Linked DNA regions of Homo sapiens: region 2 is linked to region 1. The links come from fine-mapping of genetic effects on gene expression. A gene starts in region 1. The other region holds a variant in brackets. All regions are shown on one strand. Distances are from middle to middle. Region 1 holds the start of MFAP3 (microfibril associated protein 3). Region 2 overlaps MFAP3 (microfibril associated protein 3).

Region 1 (8,344 bases):
CCACCCTTCTCTGCCTGCACTGTCACACTTGGAAAACGGACCAGTTCCTACAGCAGGCACACAAATTGACAAAGCAGCATTCTGAATCGGCAAAGGGGAGAAAAAGCAAATGAAGAGCAGGTTGTTAGCACTACCCTACCCTTTGCAAAGAATAAACACAAAGTTGTTCTGCCTAGACTCAAGCATTATTATAGGGATCTGTAACTAAAAAAGGTTAGTGACATTCAAACAGAAATCACTATCCTGAGGGCCATTTACTCAAAAGTTTCTAATTAAAATAGCCTTTATATTACTACCTTGGAGCTATCACATACCCCATAACTAGCATTTGGTCAGTCTGAGCTCAAACTTCAACATATCTTCTGGCACCTGGAGAAACATCGTCTGTATTTATCAGAGCTTTGCTTTAAACCCAGGATTATTTCAGTTATACCCATAACTTATATCCTTTTTGCCATAGGTATATTTGCTGAATAGCTACTGGATGCAAATGACAAAAACATCAATGAAACAGGCTTAGATTTATGATCTTCCCAGGCCATTTTTCCCCCTCTATAGTCTGAAACATCTCTATTTGAAACTCAGTCTAGTTAAAACAGAACTCCTCTTACCCTCAGATCTACTTGTTCAGCTTATGAACAGCTTAGATAATAGCCAGACAATTCTTCCAGTTTTGCAGTATCAAAATTGTAAGACAATCATGGCTCAGTGGTTAGGAGAATGGGCTCTAGAGTTAAGGTGCCTGATCCTACCCCTGGGTGAAGCCATAGGCTTGCAAGGCCTTAGTTTTCACATTTATTAAATAAAATAATATTAACAGTAACTGCATCATAGGGTAGTTTTGAGGATAAGATGAACTAATGTGGGTAAATTATAAATATATGCTATTGTTATTATTCCACCTCCTACACATTTTTCAATTAAGTCCTGTTGTCTCTGTCCTAACTCATATCCTTTTATCTCACCTGGGTATACCACACTATCCCCTTAATTTCAGAATGGATCTCCTTAACTCCTTTTACCTCTATGATGTATCCAAACACTGTGACACTCAGAATTGGTCCTAAACACAAATCTGAGCAATTCAGGGTAATTTTACAATCTACTGGTGATTTCTCACTGCCCATGAGATAAGCTTAAAATTCCAATTTGGCATTGTAATTCTCCAAGAATAGATTCAGGCAGCAGAACAGAAAGTCATGAGAAGCCCAGAGGTGCCTCTATGTACGATAATTGCTTGCAGGAGGAATGAATGGATTTAAACATTAAGTCTGGTCTTTAGTTTTACCTCTATCACAAATTAGCTATGATGTGCTCCAGTGGTTTTAGTTTCCTCACCTAGAGGCTGATTATCATTATCATTCGTTTCTTTGCTTAAATCCTATAATCTACCCAGCTTTCCTGCCATGGCTGAAAGCCTAAACTACGCTTGTTTTACTTTATTCTCTCTAAATAACTTTTCACCTTACTAGTTGTTCCTTTTGCTTAAAAATCTTTCTGCCCCTTCCCGTCAATATCTTTCTGGGGGAAACTGTACCCTCTCTATAATATTCAACTCTAATTTCATCTTATTCAGGAAACCCTCTCATGCCCACCCTCTTGTCAGATGAGTTTTTTTTTTTTTTGCTCTGTCAGTCCCCTAGCACATTAAGAGTACGCCATTATAAGACTTATCAGTTTTCCTCTTAGCAGTTAGTTATCCGTTCAAAAGACTGTAAGCTTATGAATGATAGAGTCTAAAAACCTTCTGTCCTTAGCACAGGGCCACTGCCTGTGGCAAGTGCTCAAAATTTTGAGTTCAGACACTCATCGACTTGGTAGTGTGAAAGGTGTCTGCTACAAACTTATTAACTTTCCAGAGCTTCAGGCTCTGGAAACTATTGATGGAGAGAGGTGAAGATAAGAAAGACACCTATCTTGAGTTTTAGTAGGCAGAACACTCTAGAGAATCATTTGACTGGTTTTCTCACTCTGTAATTTTCAGACCATTTATATCAAATTAATTTGTGGTGCTTGTTAAAGATGCAGATTTCTTGACCCCACAGACTTATTGAATTGGGATCTCTAGGGGATGCCTGGGCATCTGCATTTTTAATGTGCATATAGGTTTATTGATTTACAAATCAAACTCATATTTCTTTTACTGGCATGACAATCACCGTAATTCAGTGTAATTCTCAAAAGTGTGGTGCAGGAACTCCTGGGTGTCCCTGACACTGTTTCAAAACAATTTACATAATATTAGGACATATCCCTTTTTCACTCACATTCTCACACAATATGGCACAATTTTCTAAAAGTTACATGATGATTGATATTGTAAGAGAATGAAGGTAGAAGTTACGAAAATCTAGCTGTCTTTTATTCAGCCAGACATTAAAGAGATTTGTAACAATGTAAAACAATGCCATTCTCAATAATTTTTCATTTTGGAAAATATCCTTTACAGAAATGCTATCTATGTTAACATATAATGAGTTTATTTTAAAATGAATAACCTTTGTTGAAAGTTGTTTTCTAAAATAGTAAATATTGATAGCTATTATAAACAAAAACCCTTTGAAGTTCTCAATACATTTTAAAAGTATAAAGAAATTCTAAGATCAAAAAGTTTGAGAACTGCTGCTATAATTATCAGCAGCATTTAAAAAATAAGTGGCTTCCCAAGATTCCATACTTTAGCCCCAAATTCTATGCATTTTCCATTACAACAGAAAATCAGAGGAAATGATCCATTTTATATTTAAGCAGGGGTTTTTTTGTTGTTGTTTTTTGGAATTTTAACAAGCTTCCAGGTGATATTGATGAACCTAAATTTAGAGAACCACTGTCAAAAGCAAAGGAAAATATCTGAAGAGTTTTAGAAGTGACAATTACTCTTATCTGGGAATTAAGATGATAATTCCGAGGGCATTAAATGGAGTTGGAAAACATGAGTTCTTAAAGGCTAAGTCCCTTCACCTCTCTGGGATTCAGTTTTTCTTATCTGTACAATAAGATTGATTTTAATATTTTACTAGCTCTGTCAGTCTGGATTTCATGCATTTTCACTGCTCGAGGGCAACAGAAGAGTTGCATCTTTCTGATGAGGTCCCAGGAGTAATCTTAGAGTCATAAATCAGATCATGTCATTCATCTGCTTAGAAACCTTCAATGGTTTTCCACTGGATTCCAAACAAAAATCAAACTCTTTATCCTTGCTCATAAGCCTTACAAGATTTGGGCTCAAGTCCCTGGCCTCATCTCTCTCCATTCTCACCTTGCTCCTTTTGCTCTAGCCAGTGGCCTTTGTCTTTTCCTTGACTTTGCTAAGTTTGTTCCCACTATATGGCCTTTGCACGCGCTATTCTCTCTGCCTGGAATGCTCTATTCCAGATTTTCATACGGCTTATTACTCTCCCACTTCGTTCCATCACATTATCCAGTCTAAATTTCTTTACAGCACTTACTACCACCTTAGATAATCCCGTTTGTTGACTTGTTTATAATCTGCTTTTCGCACTGCTTGAGAGCAGGGCCCTTCCGTTCGTTGACTGATGTGTCCCTGGAGCCCAGGGCAGTGCCTGGCAGGTATCTGGCTCTCAGTAAGTGTTCGATGACCGAACTCCCACACCCAGGCCAGACTTTCAAAAGAATGGCAAACATTTTCGCCTCCTGCACTCCCGACCCCAAGCCACAGGCTACGACTCACGCCTCGGCGCTCCTAGTAGTCCCCTCGCAGCGACCCCAACCAAGCCGTCACCTACCCGACCGCCGTCTAGCTCCTTCCGGCCTCAGCGGCGGCTTAACTCGGAAGTTTTCTCGGACACACCGGCACGCCTCTGCGCTGAAGGAGCACTTCCGGGGCAGTAGGAACGCCGAGTCGGCTGCCGTGGCTGTGCTGAGGGTGGCGGCCGGATAGGTGCGGAGCTTCCTGAACGAGGCAGGAGGGGTGCGAGGTTCAGGGGCAGGGCCCGGGCAGCCGAAGTCGTTAGGGAGGCGGTGACCTGACGGTGGGCGGCGGACATCTCGCGGCAGGGTCGAGGGCTGTGAAAGCGGTTTAGTGATTGAAGCGCTACGTTTGTGTGAGGAATTCTTGTCGTTGTCAGCGCCTGAGAACTTAGTTGGGAGCGGACGTTTACGTCGAATCTCTCGTTTGGGACCCCATTCTTGAATGTGGGAAGAAGTGAGAGCGCATGTTTGCTCATCTAGAGACAGCCGTATTAATAACGATAGGATACAAACCATCACCCCACCAAGTGATAGCAGCTGTTAACCTGTGGGCGGTTACGTGCCGGTCACTGTTCCAAGCCCCTCACATATCGCGTCACTGAATCTTTATAGGGACCCAGAACTCCATTTGACAGATGAGGAAACGGAGAGGCAGACAGGTGACCTGACTTCCCCACAATCGCTGCAGGACAGGAAGAAAGTAAACTCCAGAGCCCGTGCTCTTAGCTACTAAGCTGTACTGCTCTTCATTTTGGTAAATGGGGCGGGTGGAGTGTATATATACGTAATATATATGTGTGTGTGTAAGCGTATGCGTTTTTATTTCTTAAAAATATGGCTCAGCCGTATTTATTTACAGTTATTGGAATCTTTCTCCTCCAACTGAGAAAATAACTGGAGGAGAAACTACAATTATTTCTACACGCTTACTACACAATGCCTGGAAGACTTACAAAAACACTAAATAGTGCAGTTCCACGTACTTGGTGTTTATTCCTTTTTTTTTTTTAACCTTTCTCCTAGATTATGAATGAGTTGAGGAAAGAGATGGTACAGTCATTCTAATAACGATAGTAATGATAATATAAACAACCATCACCATAAAAAATTCTCTTCTGGCTTAGCTCAAATATCTGGCACAAATGAAAGAATAGAGATAACCAGTGTTTAATATTTTAGTAAAGGGACTGTTTTGGCAGGGCATGGTGGCTCACGCCTGTAATTTTAGCACTTTGGGAGGCTGAGGCAGGGGAAGATTGCTTGAGGCCAGGCCTAGGGTTCAAGACCAACCTGGCCAACATAGCGAGACCCTGTCTTTAAAAATATATTTTGGAGTATGTCCTTCCAGTCTTTCATGGAATTATATGAATTTATGTAATATGTATATTATATATTCTACATATAGTATACTGTATATATTTATGATGATGATAATGATGCGTTGCAACCTGGAGAGAGCATAAGGAAAAGATAGGAAACATTTATTCATATACACAAAACATTAATTGAACTTTGTGCAAAAACTGTCTCGTCTTTCCTATTAGATAGGCCCTTGGAGTGAATGGCTTACATTAGTTCTCTATCTCCACAGGTACTGTGGTACTACTTGGTACGTAGTAGGTACTCAAAAAATGTTTGCGAGTGAATGAATGGCTACTTCTAAGTTGGTTTGTATGTCAGTGAGTAGTTGTATCTGGATTTTTTCTCTATGTGTTTTGGAAATGTGTAATGTGTTTATATTATATGCCCATATATTCTGAACTCCATAGTGTTGTCTTAATCTACCTTTCTAGCTTCATGCCTTCCCATTGTTCTTCTCTCTGCCATGGTAACTACTCCCTACTGTAACTGTCCATGTTCCATACTGTCAGACCTCAGGCCTTTGGCTGTACCCTCATGTTATTTCCATATCCTTGAATCCTGTCATTGGCATCATCATCTGTCAAAATCATAAGCTTCTTTTAAGGCAGGTGTTGCCAACTCAGATGCCTACAGAGGTTAATCAGGTAGCATAATTTGAGTGAAGTGGATTTGCGTGGGGGATTGTAGGGAGCTGGAGAGCAACTGCCCTAGCTAAAAGGGCCCAGCGGCTATTTAGCACAAGCTAGTTATTACAGAGTTGAATGTGGGCCCGGTGTTGCTAGATCTTTTAATTTTACAAGTTAGAAGTTGGAAGCCTATATTTTTATATGAAGTCTGATTTTTAAATGTTGGCATCTAGTTTTTGCAAAGGTTAAATACTGTGCAGGCCAAATAAAAACATCTGTAGGCTGGATTTGGCACTTAAATTCCCAGTTTGTGACCACTACTCTAGGCTTATTTCAGGTACTTTGTTCATGAATTACGTTGTCTGATTCTAATGGAGTTCTGTTTTTTTTCAGCATTTTGTGTGTTGGATGGTCTGGCAGGGATGTTTCAGCATTTTGTGTGTTGGACTGAATGCAGCACCTGTTATAGTGCTGCATCCAGTCTGCCTTAGTTTTAATATGCCTTTCTTTTCTAATACATTAGAAACATTTTGATAGCATGGGTTGGGTCTAATTCTGCACTTAGTACATATCAGTACATACCTACAGCGTGTGTGTACATATGTGTGAGATGTATTGATTTCTACTCTGATAATCCTTGGTTATCCTGGAAACTAGTGTCTGTTCTTTGTAGAGACACCAATAGTATCTTGGCTTTAATTGCCAAAGAGCTCTACATCTGGAAGGAATTGAATTGAGTAACACTGGTATTCAAAAGTTGATCTGACATAAAGCCAATCTGATGGCTTAAATTTCATGATGTCCTGGAAAAATTGAGGTAGGAATGATTAATAACTAGTAAGATTTTTAAGGACAATAAGTAAAAGGAAAAATTGATAAATTATACCTCATTAAAATTAAAGACTTGCTCTGAAAGGCCCAATGAAGACAATTAAAAGATAAGCTACATACTGGAAAAAAATATTTGCAAACCACATATTATACAGAATATATGAAGAGCTCTCAAAACTCAACAGTAAAAAAAAAATCTCATTAGAAAATGGGCAAAAGATACAAAGATATTTCACTGACAAGGATATACAGATGGCATATAGGCACATGAAAAGATGTTCAACCTTATTAGGTCTTAGAGAAGTACAACTTAAATCCACAATGAGATATCACCACACAACTGTCAGAATGGCTCAAATAAAAAATAGGGACAATGTCAAATGCTGGCAAGAATGCAGAAAAACTTATCAGTCATACATTGCTGGTGGAAATGTAAAATGGTGTAGCTAGTCTGGAAAAGAGTATGGCAGTTTCTCATAAAACTAAACATGAACTTAACCATATGACCCAGCAGTTGCACTCTTGGTCATTTACCCCAGAGAAATGATAGCTTATGTTCCCCCAAAAACCTATACATGAACTTTCATAGCTGTTTTATTTATAATAGTCCCAAACTGGAAACAATACAGATATCCTTCGATGGATAAATGGGTAAATTGTGATACATCTATACTATGGAATACTACTCAGAAATAAAAAGGAAGGAATACTAATACAACTTAAATGGATCTTGAGGGGCTTATGCTGAGTGAAAAAAGTCAATGTCAATAGGTAATATGCTGTATGATTTCATTTATATAACATCTTGAAATGACAGAATTACAGAGATGGAGGACACCTGTCCATCAGAGAGATCAGTAATTGCTTTGGGTTGGAAGGAGTGTCGGAAGTGGTTATGGCTAAAAAAGGATAGCACAAGGGATCCTTGTGATTGAACTGTTCTGTATCTTGATTGTGGTGATAGTCACACAAAGGTATACATGCGATAAAATTTTATAGAACTAAATACAAATGAGTGCGTTTAAAACTGATAAAGTCTGAATGAGATCAGTGGATTGCATTGATATCAGTTTCCTGGTTGTGATATTATATTTGTGTAAGTTTTACCATTGGGGGAAACTGGATGAAGGTATATGGGATCTCTGTATTATTCCTTATACTTGTATGTGAATCTATGATAATCTCAAACTAAAAAGTTTAAACAAATACTTTATACCAAAGAAGCCTATATAAATTTTTTTTGGGCTTTCATTTTACCAGCTGATGTTCTAATCATGTCAGATAAAGATGATATTGAGACTCCACTGCTAACTGAAGCAGCCCCCATCCTTGAAGATGGAAACTGTGAGCCAGCCAAGAATTCTGAGTCTGTTGACCAAGGTGCCAAACCAGAGAGTAAATCAGAACCTGTAGTTTCCACTCGGAAAAGACCAGAGACCAAACCTTCCAGTGACCTTGAGACTTCAAAAGTTCTCCCTATTCAGGTATCACAGACCACAGAAAAAGTAGGGTATCTATTAAAATATTAGGATTAAAAAATGTTGGGGCTAAAAGAAATTTGGCATAAATACCAATTTAGAATTGCTCTTATTTCTTTCTCTTTACAACCCTAAAATACAGTCTTTTCAGTTCTATAAATGCCTTTATGAATAATTGCTTTTGCTATGTGGTACTTACATGCTGATAGCATATATCTGCCAGTCAAGCAATACATTTCTTTAGCTAAATAATATGTATTTGTTCACCCATGCTTTTGGCTAATAATTAGATACCTTGTCTGTACATTCTGATTTTCCTCTAATTTTTTCATTTTT
Region 2 (8,344 bases), 21 kb before region 1:
TGACAAATACTATGATGAAAATAAAAGAAAAATGAAAAAGAGGGTATTAAACCCTCATCCTAACCCCAACCTAGGAACACCTACTTTAGTATGGTCAGGGAGGCGTCTAATGGTGATAACTAAGCTGAAATCTGAATTCTGAATGCTCATAAACCAGTCAAGGGAACATCTGGGGTAGATCATTCTAGGCAGAGGGGCAGCATGAAAAAGGTGGTTTTTTTTTTTGTTTTTTTGTTTTTTTTTGAGATGGAGTCTTGCTGTCTCCAGGCTGGAGTGCAGTGGCGCCATCTCAGCTCACTGCAACCTCCGCCTCCCGGGTTCAGGCAATTCTCCTGCCTCAGCCTCCTGAGTAGCTGGGACTACAGGTGCGTGCCACCACGCCCAGCTAATTTTTGTATTTTTAGTAGAGACGGGGTTTCACCCTGTCATGTTTCACAACCGTTTCATGTTGGCCAGGATGGTCTAGATCTCTTGACCTCGTGATCCTCCCGCCTTGGCCTCCCAAAGTGCTGGGATTTCAGGCGTAAGCCACTGTGCCCAGCCCTGAAAAAGGTTTTAAGGTGGGAGCAGACTTGGTGTGTGTGTTAGAGGAACAGCAAGGAGGCCAGGGTGGCTGGGATATAATGGGTGAGGTGGAGAGTGGTGGGCAATGAGTTTGGACCCATAGGAGAGAACCAGTTCATATTAGCATCCTGTAGGCCATGGCAAGGAGGATGGATTTTCTTCTGAATTTTTTTTCAGTGAGGATAAATACTGTGGCGTATAGGCAGAGGGTGACATGACATAATTTATTACTTTCACAATTCATTCCAGTGGCAGTGTAGGGAATGGATGACCTGGGGACAAAAGTGGAAGCAGGAAGCTCAGTAAGGACCATCAAATAGTACATGTGAGAGATGGCAGGGTCTTGGGCTAGGATGGTATCAGTGGAGGTAGGGAGCAGTGGATGGATTGCATATGTTTTTTGAAGTGAGACAGTAGGACTTGTCGACATAACAGATGTGGAGAGTAAAGCAAATAGAGTCAAAGATGATGCTTTTGCTTGAGCATATGAGATGATGGTGTCATTTACTGAGAGAAGACGGCAGGGGTGAAACTGGTGTATTTTTTATTATAAGGGAAAGGAATAAGGAATTCTATATTTGATATATTAATTTTGAGATGCCATGAGAGATGTCTGGCCAAGTGGAGATGTCAAGTAGGAAGGGATTAGATCTACAAGTCTGAAAGGCTACATTTGGAGCTGCAATATACCTTTGGGAGTCATCAGTGTGAGGATGGCATTTAAAACTTTGGAATTAGGTAATGCCACCAAGGAAGAATGCTATGGAGAAGTGGTGGCCATACCTCCCAAGCCTTCATTCTTAATTCTCACATCAACTGATGGACATAGTCATAGACCACAGAACAAGTTCACTCCTTCCGTTCCATTAAATGCAGCAAACATTGTCTTTTCTATATGAAAGGTGCCCTAAGATACAGAATCTACAAAAATAGATGACTAATATATGATGCCATCTTGTCAAGTTGCTAAAAAATTGTTAAGGAGAAGACAATTCTAATGGAAAATGTAGAATACGTTAAGGTATTTGCAAGGGACTGGGGAGGATCTTCAAAAGATAAATTTGGTAAGATAGGATGAGAACAGATCTTGGAGGGCCAAAGAATTATATTTTTCCTGCTTAGAGAACAGGGCAACATTGAAGATTTCTGATTTCCATGATCAGATTAACACCTTTCCTTCTGCATCCATGACTAATTCATCCTTCCATGTCTAGCTCAAATCTCACCTAGTCCACAAAGCATTGCCCATTCTCTGCTCACATACTCTTTTCATCTTTAAGTCCTCTTGCATTTATTTTCCAGCACTAATCCATTTAGCACTTGATACACTGACTCTTTCAGATGGTTTATGACAGGAACATCTTATTTTCTCAACTGGTCTGTAAATTCATTCTAGGCAGGATCTGACTTAAATCCATAGATCGGGCTCATGGCTAGGAACATAAGCCCTCAAATAATCCCTGTTGCGTTAAGTATCACCTCTTCAGGGAATTCTTCTTTGACCTAGATGAGGCTCTTTTGTTCTAGGCGCCTATAGAATCGTTTCCTTTAGCACACTGCTCAGTTTTAAACTATACACTCCATGTCACTATGTGAATTGGATCTGCTTTCCCATAGGATGTAAGTCCCCAAAGAGCAGAGACCATGTTTAGTTGTGCTTGCAGTTAGTGTTCCCAGTTTGGGTGCAACAAACAACTGCTAAAAATTAAATGAATACATGTGAGCTTAGGTGTTCAAAGGACGAAGGGGCTTTAGAACAGTGGCCTCAGGAATGGTCCAATTGTGTGCTTACAGCTTCTGAAAGAAGACTGAAATCCACAATGAAAAACTGCTACATGAGCGGGAGTGTCTTCTGATGAACTCCCTTCTGCTTACGGACAAACTACTTCCCAGAGGGTGGCTCTTCTATCTGAATGAGGCCCCTTAAAGGCTGATTTATCATCACTTAGGACACTCGAGTCCTCCCTATGGCATAGCTGAGTTGGAGGCAAAGCAGAGTGTTCCCAACTGTCAGGAAGAATAAGCATGCTGGCAGCAGCCTTGGATCCTCTAGGCAGATGGAGTGACATATGTGTATTTACATATATATATTTCCTAATCAATAGGTTCCAGCAAAAACATGAAAACTCAAGAGAATGATTGGAATTTAAGGGACTCTGAAGGAGTTTAATTCCTTAAAGAAAATTAGGGCCAGGTGCAGTAGCTCATACCTATAATCCCAGCACTTTGGGAGGCAGAGGTGGGCGGATCACTGGAGGTCTGGAGTTCAAGACCAGCCTGGCCGACACGTTGAAACCCTGTCTCTGCTAAAAATACAAAAATTAGCTGGGTGTGATGGTATGCACCTGTAGTCCCAGCTACAGGCAGGAGAATTGCTTGAACTGGGGAGGTGGAGGTTGCAGAGAGCTGAGATCGCACCATTGCACTCCAGTCTGGGCGACAGAGTGAGACTCCATCTCAAAAAAAGAAAAAGAAAAAAAAAAAAAAAAAAAGAAGAAGAAGAAAAAGGGAATCAGCGCAAATTTTTTTTTTCTTTTTTCTTTTTTTTTTTTTTTAGCTGCAGATGACTTTAGGAATAAAAACTAAGAGTACTCTTTGAATGATCAAACTTTCCCCACCAAATATGTAAATCTTCTGTTCCAAATTAGGTACTTCTAGCATTTCTTCTAAGAAATGTATTTCTGGGGCCAGCCAAAAGGAGCTTTGAAATCTTCTTACCATATTTTTGCCCCCCTGCCTGCTTCTGTGACTGTCTCCCTTCACTAGACACACTGGCCTACTTCTTCTGTTCCTCCAAAAGGCCGACCTTGCCATTGCTCTTTCCTCTGCCTGGAGTACCCCTCCTAACTTTTGAATGTCTGGGTCCTCATAATTTGGGTCTCAGCACAATGCCCTTTTCGAAGGGGGTTTTCTGACCCCAGTGAATAGATATACACTGCCAGTCACTCTGTCACTGTGGAGTCCCTGGCTCATGGAAGAACACTTGGCACATAGCAGGTGTCAGCAAATACCTGTTCATGAATAAATAGGTTAAGAAAAGCCAACTATGCCCCAGCAGAATCTGATAACCTGTCTGCGGTTTGAGCTACGTGTACTGGAGACAACAGAAATGATGACTTGAAGATTTAGCCTAGCACTTACTGCTTCTGATTCTTGTTTTGTTCATGTATGTGATCATCTTCAAGGAACATGGTTTGCAATTTTATCCACCACAGAACCACGTTTTGCTCCTGTCATTCATGTGAAGCTGACCTTGTCACACACTGCTTGTTACCCACAACCTCCATTTTTCCTCCTTTCTTAATTACAGAAGCCCAAACTTTGGGACAATGTGTCCAGTTAAAAATAAACACGCTCCTCTC[C/T]GCAAGCTTTCTTAGTTACAGCAGGTAGCCATGTCTCCTAGTTCTGGCCGCTGCATAGCAGAAGTTGGTTGAGGCTTCGGGAAAGCTATCACTTTCTCGATAAAAAGGTACAAACTCAGCTGCTGTGTCCTTTGTCCTTTGACCTTCTACCCTTCTCCCTGTCTGGAATGCAGACACGATACTGGAGGTAAAACAGTCGTCCTATGTAGCAGGTGCTGTCAGTGCTCTGCCCATTATTCGTTGACAGTCACCATTCTATTTACCACAGGCTTCCTGTTGAAAACTCCTTTTCTCTACCCGAGGCCTTTTGCTAGCTACAGAATCATGCTGAGCCTGTAGAATGCAGTCTGAAAGTGGGGGTTAGTGACCCTGGGAGCAGCCTTTAACTAATGACAGATGGTAGTTGGTGGATAAATATCCCAGCTCTTTGGCCTTGAGGTGGGACAACTGAGGCATGAGCTACATACACCTGGGGCAGAGAGAGCTCCCTGAGGTCCCCAGCGGGACTGAACACTGGTTGCCCACAGCAGTAACCCACTCATTAACACATCCTGTGTAGGCTTTCTTACTTTGCCTGTCTCACTTCCCCATTTCCCTACCTTCCTGGGATCACTTCCCAAATAAACTATTTGCATGTGAATCCGTTTCTCAGGAGCTCCTTCTGGGGGAACCCAAACTAAGACATCTTGTGACCTTGAGGATGAAAGCCACATGCTAAGGATAGAGAGCAGTCTAGAAAGAGCCGAGTCCCTGATGCCAGTTCTTAAGCCCCTGCACCAGCCTTGGACTGCCTATCTCTGGATTTGAGAAAAATAAATCTCTTAGCTATTATGATAAGCCACCACGATCAGGTTTCTATGGCATGCAGCCAAATGCAATTCTCAGAGGTGTGGAGGAATTTTTAGTTGACCACAAATGCAAATATAGTCATCAGTTGGACAAGGCTACTAACAAAGCTGACGCCGGCTCATGACTAGCCCCTTACAGTGTGGTAGATCAGAGCTATCAGTGTTTGCTTATCGGTTGCTATATTTAATCCTTGTGTTAATTCTGTGAGGTAGGCATTATCAATTCTATTTTACTGAAGCCGAGAAAGGCTGAAGCCCTTGTCCATGGTTACAAGGCTAGGGGTGAAATCAGGATTTAAAGTCCAGCAATCTTTTGCCATAGGGATATAAAGGCTAGATTTTCATTCTAAGGAGTCTGTGGCATTTAAGTAATGAGTCACACCTCCCATCTGTTGCCTTTGCGTTCTCCTAACACCTTGTGCTTTTCCATGCCTGTTAACCATCACCACTCTTCACCCTGATGGGACTGCAGACTTTTGCTTCTACCAGAGCTAAACCTCCTGCCCGCCAAATCTCACCATAAACTACACACTATAATCACAAGCTCTTTAAAAATGTACCAAATCTTCTCATCTCTTTTTCTCAAGCTCTTGCCTTTGCCAAAAATGCTTTACTTCAGAAGAGTAAACTGCTGTATTTGGGCCCAGGGAGGATAGTCTGGTATCTGCAGGCCCGTTGTGGGCAGGATACCCATCTCAGTGTAGCTCATAGCACTGAAAACATACACAGTGCTTAGGTGTAAATATTTGTAAAGTTAAAGTGGATTCCAGCCACACTAGAATCCAAGTTGAATTCAAATTTACTCCTATGCTGGGGGCTGTGGCTCATGATTGTAATCCCAGCATTTCGGGAGGTCCAGGCAGGAGGATTACTTGAGATCAGGAGATAGAAACCAGTCTGGGCAACATAACGAGACCCATCTCTACACACACACACACACATAAAATTAGCCACGTGCGTTAGCGTGCACCTATAATCCTAGCTACTCAGGAGGCTGAGGCAGAACTGCTGAGCCCAGGTTGAGACTGCAGTGAGCCATGATCATGCCATCATACTCTGGCCTGGGCGACAGAGTGAGACTACCCTCTCCCCAAAAAATTACCCATTTAAAATCATTAACGTCAAGTTCCATCAAACATACAAATTTCGTCAAACATACAAATGAAACATACACTATAGAAAATTTCAAATAGACTATATACTCCATTGAACGTTTAATAAATTATATTCAAGTATGACTTTCTTTAAAAAAGAGACAAAATTATAATGCAAGTATTTATTAAAATGCTGACAATTTAAACATCCTCTGAATTATATGAAATACTTATTTACTTTTGTGAAATGCGTTAGTGAAAATCTAGGAGTTTCTATGTAAGGCTGAGCATTTTCAACATTCCTGGCCTAGATGAGAAAAGAATGCATTCTCTTACTGGTACTCAGGAAATATTTATACAATACACTTGGGTTCTACTTGCTGGTGTGTGGAGACTAGGCTAGCACCCATGACTGGCTGGGCTCTAGAAAACAAGCATGCAGTGCTCCTGTGCCATCTGGGACCCAAGAGACAAAAGTCTGATCTAGGGTGAAGCTACATGCAGAGGGTGAAGAGGACTATACCAACAGCCTCACTTGTCTGGAGGAGCAAAAGGAAAGCCGTGCACAGATATTGCTTTGACCTTAAAATATTTGTTAAGTGAGGCAAGAAAGAAGCCAGGAGTCTTCTCACAACCGTTCCAGGTCAGCAATTTCTAAGATATTTCTATCAAGGTAATTGGTAGAAAATATAAATGCGTGCTGGCCCTGACTCAAGAATTAAACCATCGTAACATATACATACACAATTTGGAGGACAGGCAGTTATCAAACAGTCTATAAACTCAAGTGGGGCATCAGCTCAATTAATACCTGTCTATCTGGCTTCAGCTGGTAAGGAATCATAAAGATGTTCAAATTTTGATTTTTGGTGAATGTATTTCACAAAGCTACCATTTCATAAGGACAATAAGGTTCACTATATCACAATACACGACAAAATTTACAAATGAGATGACAGCTATTTTAAATACATTTTGTAAAGGCATTTTCCACTAACTATAAAATCCAGTGAGACAAAAAGATAATTACACTATAGTTACCATCAAGACTTTTAGACTGTAGTTGAAGTTCAAAAGGTTGATTTAAAAAAAAGATAACATGAGGCTTAATTATATATGAAGAGTATTTGATTAGATACAGAAAACATTAGTAAGTGTGGTTTTCTTCCTCTTGAAAACTAGCTTTACGAAGTAATACCAACTCCAATTAAATTTTGACCTACTTTAATTCCTCATCAATGGCACCATAAGCTGGTACACTCAAAGTAAACCAGTTACTTTGGCCACCAAATTAGGCCACCTCTGTTTCTAAAATAACTAGGATACAACGGAGTAGCATGCATTTAGTTACTATACAGTATCGTGCAAACTTACAGACTTTAAAAACATTTCCTCCATTTTTCCAAAGTTCTGTTTCTTAGGACTTTGATTTTAAACATGTCTACCTTAGGGTTCTAAATAATAATGTCTCCTATGAGAACATGTGGGGTAAAACCATTCTCTAATTTGACAAGCTATATTCTAAAAGATTACTGCAAACCTGCTATGTTAGGACAGGGTTGAAAGTACTATCTGAAATCTGAGGGATGTTTAGAGGACTGACCCCCAGACAAGGGATTTAAAATGTTTTTTGGCCAGGCACAGTGGCTCATGCCTGTAATCTCAACACTTTGGGAGGTAAGGCAGGAGGATCATTTGAAGCCACAAGTACAAGGTCAGCCTGGGCAACAAAGTGAGACCCCCATCTCTACAAAAAATAAAAAAAAATTAGCCAGGAAAGGTGGTGCACACCTGTAGTCCTAGCTGCTTGGGAGGCTGAAGCAGGACGATCGCTTGACCCCAGGAGTTGGAGGCTGCAGTGAGCTATGATCTTGCCACTGCACTCCAGTCTCAGTGGACAGAAAAAAAATTTAATTTTTCCAGAGAAAAGGGAAGGGAAAAAGTGTTCCATAATCTAGGATATGTTCAAGAGCCTTTGCTCTTATAGTCAAATATATAAAAACAATTTTCCTTAAAGAAATACCAGTCTATGAGCCAAGGCAAGCTTTGGCTAAATGATTGGTTAGCTTTTATTTGGCTCTAGAGGTTTCCATGGAAACAGCCTGAGAGACAGAAAAGGCAGCATTATCATCTTTATCCATGATGCCATCTGATAAAACTGCACATTGATTCATTCATGCTATTCAGAGCAGATGTATTACTTCTGATAAGCCTGGACAAAGGGAGGCATGAGTTTTATCCCGTCACGCTTTGAATTTCCTGTCTTCCCCTGTTTGAAACCTTAAATTAAAATCCTGATAAAACCTCCTCTGAACATTTCCCTCAGGAGCCTCTAGCTGAAGTAATGCTTCAATAATCAGAAGTCATATGAAGAAACGTGAAGCCCCAAATGGAGCTCCACTGCCAAGTTCTTAAAATTATATGGCACCACGCTTCCTGTAGCTGAAGAAATTGTTCTGAAGAGTATTTACAATTC

The links. PIP is the estimated chance that this variant, and not a neighbour inherited with it, causes the effect.
Region 2: its variant is the best candidate, but not a certain one, in a credible set for the expression of MFAP3 in whole blood (INTERVAL, PIP 0.72).

The regions. Positions count from the first base shown.
Region 1 is chr5:154,034,414-154,042,757 of GRCh38, reverse strand. MFAP3 (microfibril associated protein 3) reads right to left here and starts at 3,791. Exons shown (of 3, transcript NM_005927.5): 1 at 3,747-3,791. FAM114A2 (family with sequence similarity 114 member A2) reads left to right here and starts at 3,848. Exons shown (of 14, transcript NM_018691.4): 1 at 3,848-3,901; 2 at 7,791-8,014. The coding sequence starts at 7,805.
Region 2 is chr5:154,055,064-154,063,407 of GRCh38, reverse strand. It overlaps MFAP3 (microfibril associated protein 3), which reads right to left. Exons shown (of 3, transcript NM_005927.5): 3 at 5,958-8,344. Among named protein-coding and RNA genes, the nearest start is that of MFAP3, 20 kb to the right of the region's middle. RefSeq lists an enhancer at 4,635-4,684. The variant C/T (reference allele first, on the strand shown) is at 3,927.